Linked DNA regions of Homo sapiens: regions 2 and 3 are each linked to region 1. The links come from fine-mapping of genetic effects on gene expression. A gene starts in region 1. Each other region holds a variant in brackets. All regions are shown on one strand. Distances are from middle to middle. Region 1 holds the start of FAAH2 (fatty acid amide hydrolase 2). Region 2 overlaps FAAH2 (fatty acid amide hydrolase 2). Region 3 has its middle 75 kb from the start of NBDY.

What was found.
Region 2: its variant is fine-mapped to the expression of FAAH2 in sun-exposed skin (GTEx, PIP above 0.99). The same link has a PIP of 0.9 or more in cerebellar hemisphere, nasal epithelium, pituitary and unexposed skin.
Region 3: its variant is fine-mapped to the expression of FAAH2 in minor salivary gland (GTEx, PIP above 0.99).

What each region holds. Positions count from the first base shown.
Region 1 is chrX:57,285,235-57,287,910 of GRCh38, reverse strand. FAAH2 (fatty acid amide hydrolase 2) reads right to left here and starts at 1,205. Exons shown (of 11, transcript NM_174912.4): 1 at 894-1,205. The coding sequence starts at 1,085.
Region 2 is chrX:57,392,269-57,394,944 of GRCh38, reverse strand. All of the region lies in intron 7 of FAAH2 (fatty acid amide hydrolase 2), which reads right to left. It also overlaps the pseudogene MTHFD1P1. Among named protein-coding and RNA genes, the nearest start is that of FAAH2, 110 kb to the right of the region's middle. The variant C/T (reference allele first, on the strand shown) is at 1,569.
Region 3 is chrX:56,653,281-56,655,956 of GRCh38, reverse strand. No RefSeq gene overlaps it. Among named protein-coding and RNA genes, the nearest start is that of NBDY, 75 kb to the left of the region's middle. The variant A/C (reference allele first, on the strand shown) is at 1,192.

The sequences.
Region 1 (2,676 bases):
TAATAATTCATACATTCAGGAGCACATACTGAGATAGTATTTGCTGCATGCCTATTCTTTGTTAAGTAGTATTGTAGATTCTGGAAATAAAGCAATGACGAAAAACAAATGAAACAGCAGAGAGGTGAAAACAAGCAGAGTATAAATAAACAATACTAGACTGTAGCTCAAGATCTCCAGGTAACCAATCACTTATATGACAGAGATGAATAGTCCTGCCTGCACAATTCTATAGAGAACGAATGAGCTGCTTAATTTTTTTAATTTAGAACTTTCAACAATTTTTGTGCAAATCATTTTACTTCAGTTTCCTTATGCATAAAATATGAATATTGCCTATATAACTGCATCCGTGAAATAGAATATGTTTAAGTACCCAGGCAGAGTATTTCACATATACTATGCAATAAATATATGGTAGACGCAGCTTTTACTATCCTAGACCAAGTACTACTTTTACTTTAAATCAATTTTAAAAAGAATTGGTTGAATGGTAAGCAGCAGGTTGATCTGGGGCCTGTGAGAGACGGAAGAATAGAGAGAGAGAAAGGGAGAGGGAGAGAGAAAGAGAGAGACTGACTTTCCATAGCTGAGAATCAGTTTGAAATTCACACCTGCTTTACCCCACACACAGTAATTATGCACAAATAGGACAAATGGATAGGAAGGACTATGACGGTACCAAAATAGTCCAACCCATGCCCACAGTAAATGTCCTTGGTAAAAATAAACGTACTACAACACCCAGAAGTCTCCCTTCATCCCCAATAAATGCCTCTCCTAAGTCGCCCTAGTAGAGAATGGAAAGGAAACCACAACCACCGCCACCACTAAGCTTCCTGGATCCTGCTAAAAGACCTGTCCCTCCAGCCTCTTCTGAATTGCATTCTCACCTTTCTCTGTCGGATCAGCTTGGCCAGCTGCATCCCCGAAAGCAGAAGCAATGGTTCAGTCACCGGCCGAGGGGTCTTTGAGGCAAACTTTGGACCCCCTAAGACTAAAGCTGCTCGGCCTACTAAGCCTATGAGAAAGCCTAGCGCCCGCAAGAGGAACAACTGAATGCGGGCGGTAAATGAAGGTGCCATCGCAGCCTGGATTCCGCACGGTCCTAGTGCTTGAGGGTTACGTGCACCCTGGGGAAAGGACGAGAAAAGTACTAAGCAAAGAGGGACTTATGAAGCTTTTCGTTTACAAGTCCAGTGTCTACCCACAATTCCACAGGAGCTTGTTTATCATCACCTGCAGGGCTCCTAGCCAGAGATGGGGGCGGAGACTTCCCAGCAGCTGCCTGTGTGCAATGCTACCTGTCGTTAGTGCTGTTGTAACCCAAGACAGAAAATGCGTCATAAGAAAGAACACTGGCCTTGGAATTCCCCAGTTCTGCTACTGTGTAGCCCTGGCCAACCTACACTATATCTCCTAGTCAGTTTACTCATAAGAAAAAAAATGGGAATAACTACTCCTATATCAAAGGGTTACCATAAACACTAGATAATAAGTAAAAACATTTAGCACAATTTATGGTAAATAGTATAAGTGGTAGTTGTTATAGTTTATTTCAGCTGTGCTTGTGAAAAAAGTGTTGTAAGTATACCTTTGTATGCAAATATTCAGTATGCTCAACAAACAACTAAATGGCAAGTATATATATATTTTCCATATGCATATTATTTAATCCTTATAAGATCACTAACAGGTAGTACTGATGAACATCAAATCTCCAGCCCATCTGTCTCCTAAACTGGACACTTGAAATGCCTTTTTTGACATATCCATGTGAATGTCTTCCAGATCGTTCAAACTCAACAAGTCCAAAACTCATCCTTTTGTCCCCCAGACTGCTGCCCCTACAGGTCTACAAATGGAATTTTCATCCACCCAGTCAGCCATGCCAAAAATCTAGAATCACTTCAGATTCTTCCATTTCTCTTATTCTCATGACAGAATCCAGCCCTTCCTTCTCAACTCAGTCTGGCTCAGATCTCACTGAGGTTTACATGAACTTCTACAAATAATCTAGCTGATCACTCTGCCTTTATTTATAGAGTGTTCTTTCTAATATGTAAATCTGACAATATTACACCCCTGCCAATAACTCCGCAATAATTCTCCATTTTCCACAGATTCAAGACCCATCTACTTTGTCCAGCATTCGACTCTCATGACTGGTGTCTGAAAAACTCTATGCTTCATCCCTAACCCCTTCTATCCCTCACATGCTAAGCTCCTGACAAACAACTATCCGAAAGTTCTCTCTTCCCTCCTTATCTTTGCATCTGCTTTCCCAACCTCTTCATCTAGTTCAGGACAAGTACCACCTCCTCCAGTAAGTCTTCCCTGAACTTACAACTGGGTGTGATGCCACTCTTTTGTAACCCTGCACTCCACAGATTAACAAAATCATAGCACTTACAACCCTCTGTTATGTGTTAGGTTTTTGTGTCTATGCCCCATCTAGATATAAACTCCTCGAAGAACAGGGTCATTCTAATTCCTCTTTGTATTGCCAGAGCCTGACATAGGGCTTGATGAGAAGTCAATACAGGTTTGTAGGCTGAAGGTATGTGATTATGAGATAATGAGCGTTGAAGATAGGGATTCGAGCTTGGCATTTAAGGTCTTGGGTAGGTGAAATGACAACGTCATCCAGGTCACTGTCTTTTCACCTGCAGAACT
Region 2 (2,676 bases), 110 kb before region 1:
ACAGGGGTGCAGATTGCCAGAAGGCATGCTGTGGTGGTTGGGTGCAGTAAAATAGTCAGGGCCCTGATGCGTGACTTGCTTCTGTGGAACAATGCCACAGTGACCACCTGCCACTCCAAGACTGCCAATCTGGATGAGGAGGTAAATAAAGGCGACATCCTGGTGGTTGCAACTGGTCGGCCTGAAATGGTTAAAGGGGAATGGATCAAACCTAGCAATAGTCATCAACTGTGGAATCAATTATGTCCCAGATGATAAAAAAAACAAATGGGAGAAAAGTTGTGGGTGATGTGGCATACGACGAGGCCCGTTCCTGGTGGCTTAGGGCTCATGACGGTTGCAATGCTCATGCAGAGCACTGTAGAGAGTGCCAAGCGTTTCCTGGAGAAATTTAAGCCAGGAAAGTGGATGATTCAGTATAACAACCTTAACCTCAAGACACCTGTTCCAAGTGACATTGATATATCACGATCTTGTAAACCGAAGCCCATTGGTAAGCTGGCTTGAGTAATTGGTCTGCTGTCTGAAGAGGTAGAATTATATGGTGAAACAAAGGCCAAAGTTCTGCTGTCAGCACTAGAACGCCTGAAGCACCAGCCTGTTGGGAAATATCAGGTGGTGACTGGAATAACTCCAACACCCCTGGGAGAAGGGAAAAGCACGACTACAATCGGGCTGGTGCAAGCCCTTCTTGCCCATCTTTACCAGAACTTTTTTATGTGTGTGCGACAGCCTTCTCAGGGCCCCACCTTTGGAATAAAAGGTGGTGTTGCAGGAGGCGGCTACTCCCAGGTCATTCCTATGGAAGAGTTTAATCTTCACCTCACAGGTGACATCCATGCCATCACTGTATCTAATAACCTTGTTGCTGCGGCTATTGATGCTCAGATATTTCATGAACTGACCCAGACAGACAAGGCTACCTTTACTCATTTGGTGCCATCAGTAAATGGAGTGAGAAAGTTCTCTGATATCCACATACAAAGGTTAAACAGACTAGGCATTGACAAGACTGACTCTACCACACTGACAGATGAAGAGATAAACAGATTTGCAAGATTGGACATTGATCCAGAAACCATAGCTTGGCAAAGAGTGTTGAATACCAATGATAGATTCCTGAGGAAGATCACGATTGGACAGGCTCCAACGAAGAAAAGTCACACACAGACGGTCCACTTTGATATCTCTGTGGCCAGTGAAATTATGGCTGTCCTGGCTCTCACCACTTCTCTAGAAGACAGGAGAGAGAGACTGGGCAAAATGGTGGTGGCATCCAGTAAGAAAGGAGACCCCGTCAGTGCTGAAGATCTGGGGGTGAGTGGTGCATTGATAGTGCTTATGAAGGACACAATCAAGCCCAATCTCATGCAGAGATTGGAGGGCACTCCAGTGTTTGTCCATGCAGGCCCATTTGCCATCATCGCACACGGCAATTCCTCTATCATTGCAGACCGGATCACACTCTAGCTTGTTGGCCCAGAAGGGTTTGTAGTGACGGAGGCGGGATTTGGAGCAGACATTGGAATAGAAAAGTTTCTTAACATCAAATCCCAGTATTCCGGTCT[C/T]CACCCTCACGTGGTGGTGCTTGTTGCCACTGTCAGCGCTCTAAAGATGCACAGGGGTGGCCCTATGGTCACTGCTGGAATGCCTCTTCCCAAGGCTTACATAGAGGAGAACCTGGAGCTGGTTGAAAAAGGCTTCAGTAACTTGAAGAAACAAACTGAAAATGCCAGAATGTTTGGAATTCCAGTAGTAGTGGCCGTGAATGCATTCAAGACAGATACAGAGACTGAGCTGGACCTCATCGGCTGCCTTTCCAGAGAACAGAGGGCTTTTGATGCCGTGAAGTGCACTCACTGGCAGAAGGGGGCAAGGGTACCTTAGCCCTGGCTCAGGCTGTCCAGAGAGCAGGACAAGCACCCAGCAGCTTCCAACTCCTTTATGACCTCAAGCTCCCAGTTGAGGATAAAATCAGGATCATTGCACAGAAGATCTATGGAGCAGACAACATTGAATTACTCCTCAAAGCTCAACACAAAGCTGAAGTCTACACAAAGCAGGGCTTTGGGAATCTCCCCATCTGCATGGCCAAAACACACTTGTCCTTGTCTCACAACCCAGAGCGAAAAGGTGTCCCTACAGGATTCATTCTGCCCATTCGCAACATCCATGCCAGCATCGGGGCTGGTTTTCTGTACCCTTTAGTAGGAACGATGAGCACAATGGACTCCCCACCCAGCCCTGTTTTTATGATACTGATTTGGACCCTGAAACAGAACAGGTGAATGGATCATTCTAAACAGATCATCATCCATCTTCAAGAAGCTACTTTGAAAATCTGGCCAGTGTCTATTCAGGCCCACTGGGAGTTAGGAAGTATAAGGCAGCCAAGAGTCAGCCCCTGCCCAGAAGATCTGAAACTAATAGTAGGAGTTTTCCCGGATGTCATTTTCAGCCTTAATTCTCATCGTGTATAAATTAACATAAATCATGCACATGTCTATTTACGTTAGTGACGTTCCACAGAATAAAAGGAAATAGTTTTGCCAAAAACAAAAAACAAACAAACAAAAAAAACAAGAACTGAAAAAAGACAAGGATCTCCACTCTCACCACTCCTATTCAACATAGTACTGGCAGTTCTAGCCAGAGGAAAGGGATCCAAATTTAAAA
Region 3 (2,676 bases), 630 kb after region 1:
AATGCATGTGGGGCTTAAAATCTAGATGGTGGGTTAATAGGTGCAGCAAACCACCATGACACATGTACACCTATGTAACAAACCTGCAATTTCTATACGTGTATCCTGGAACTTAAAGTAAAATAACAAAAGATCCTTTTTAGATAAGCAAATGTTGAGAATGCTTGTTACTACCAGAACAAACTGATCTTGAAAAGAGCACTGAATACAGAAAGGAAAGACCACTACCAGCTAAAACAAAAGCACACTTAAATATATAGACCAATGACACTGTAAAGCAAATACACAAAAAGTCAGCATGAAAACCAGCTAATGACACAATGACAGGATAAAACCCACACTTATCAATACTAACCTTGATGTAAACAGTAAGCCTTGATGTAAATGCCCCATTTAAAAATACAGTGAGAATCCAAGATGGCCAATTAGCTATGGTCTAGGGTACTCACAGAGAGAAATAAAAAGAGGCAAGTTAATTCAACACCTTCAACTGATATATTCTGGTTCTTGCATTGGGCCTGACTAGGCAAACAACTCAACCCACAGATAATGAAGAAAAGCAGAGGGAGCAATGGTCCATGGAGCCAAAGGAACCCCCATGCCCAACCAAGGGAAGCAGTGAGTGATTGTGTGACCCAGCCCAGGTAATTATGCTTCTCTCATGGATCTTAGCAACCCACAGATCAGGAGATACCATCACAAGCCCACATTACCAGGGCCTTGGGTGCAATACACAGAGCTGTGTAAAGTCTCAGTAGTGCAGCCACTCAGGCAAACACAAGGACCCAGGAATTTTACATATTCTTGCCCCAGAATCACTAGCAAAGTGAAAAATCCATCCATCCATATCCATAGAAAGTGGGCTGATTCTGGGGAGCCAAGAATCATCATTCTTCAGGCCCCACTTTACAGCACCTCACAAGTTAAGACCCTCTGATTTAGAATTCCAGCCAGCCAAAGGCAACAGGCTAGAATCTGCCTGAGACAGGTTTAAGTTCCCAGGGAGAGGGGCTGCAACCATTACTGTGGTTTGGTAGACTCAGATTTTCCAGCCTGCAGCTTTAGAGAATACAAATGGTCCAAAAGAGGAAGGGTCACTCAAAATGTAGCACAGCTTCCTTGTCAGATTATGGCCAGACTGCTTCCTTAAGCAGGACCTTGGTTCATTGCTGCTCACTGAGCAGGACCTCT[A/C]TGTGGGGGCTTCAGCCACTCTGGCCATGGTTCTATGTACAGAGCTCTGATCTCTCCCTGGGTAAGAGCTCACAGGGAGAGGAGCAGCTGCCATTTTTGCAATTCAGTTGACTTAGTTGTTCCAGTCGGCCAGCTTTGGAGAACATAAATGGTCAAGACAAGAAAGGGTACCCCGCAACACAGCACAACTGGACTACCATAGCAGCCAGACTACTTATTTAGGCAAGTCTCTGATCCATTTCCTCTTGACTAGGTAAGATTTCTGAACAGGGGTCTCCAGCCACTTCATACTGGTGCATTCAGGCCAGAAAAAATGTCAGTACCACACTGGGATGGAGATTCCAGATAAAGAAGCTGGCTGTCATCTTTGCAGTTTTGCAGACTTCACTGGTGATCCCTCCTGGAATGGGAAGGACTGAGGCAACTAGAATCTGAAGTGGACCTCCAGAAAACCACAGCAGTTCTCTGGTAGAGTGGCCTGACTGTGAAAAGGAAAACAAACAAACAGAAATAAACAACAACAATATAAATAAAAAAGACCCCACAAAAACCTCATCCAAAGGTCAGCAACTTCAAAGTTTGCAGGTAGATAAGCCCAGAAAGATGAGAAACAATCAACATAAAAATGCTGAAAACTCAAAAAGTCAGAATGCTCCCTTTTCTCCAAGTGACCACAACACCTCTGCAGCAAGGGCACAGAACTGGGCTGAGGTTGAGATGGCAGAATTGACAGAAGTAGGCTTCAGAAAGTAGATAATAACAAAGTTTTCTGAGTTAAAGGAGCATGTTGTAACCTAATGCAAATAAGCTAAGAATTATAATAAAATAACACAGGAGGTGATAGATGGAATAGCCAATTTTGAGAGAAACATAAATGACCTGATGGAGATGAAAAGCACAAGAACTTCACAATGCAATCTCAAGTATCACTAGTAGAAATGAGTATGCAAAGGAAAGAATGTTAGAGCTTGAGGATTATTTTTTGAAATGAGACAGGCAGACAACAATAAAAAAGAATGAAAATGTATGAACAAAACCTCTGAGAAACATGAGATTATGTAAAGAGAATGAACCTATGACTAATTGGGGTACTTGAAAGAGATGGGGAGAATGGAACCAAGTTGAAAAACATACTTTGGGAAATCATCCAGTAGAACTTCATCAACATAGGAAAACAGGCCAACATTCAAATTTAGGAAATGCTGAAAACCCCAGTAACATACTCCATGAGTAGATCAACACCAAGACACATAATCATCAGATTATACAAGGTCATAATAAAAGAAAAAATGTTAGGGGCACCAGAGAGAAAGGCCAGCTCACCTACAAAGGGAAACCCATCAGACTAACAGTGAACTTCTCAGAGGAAACCCTACAAGCCAGAAGAGATTAGGGGCCAATATTCAATATTCTTAAAAAAAGAAATTTCCAACCCAGAATTTTATATGCAGCCAATTAAGCTTCATAAGCAAAAGGGAAATAAGA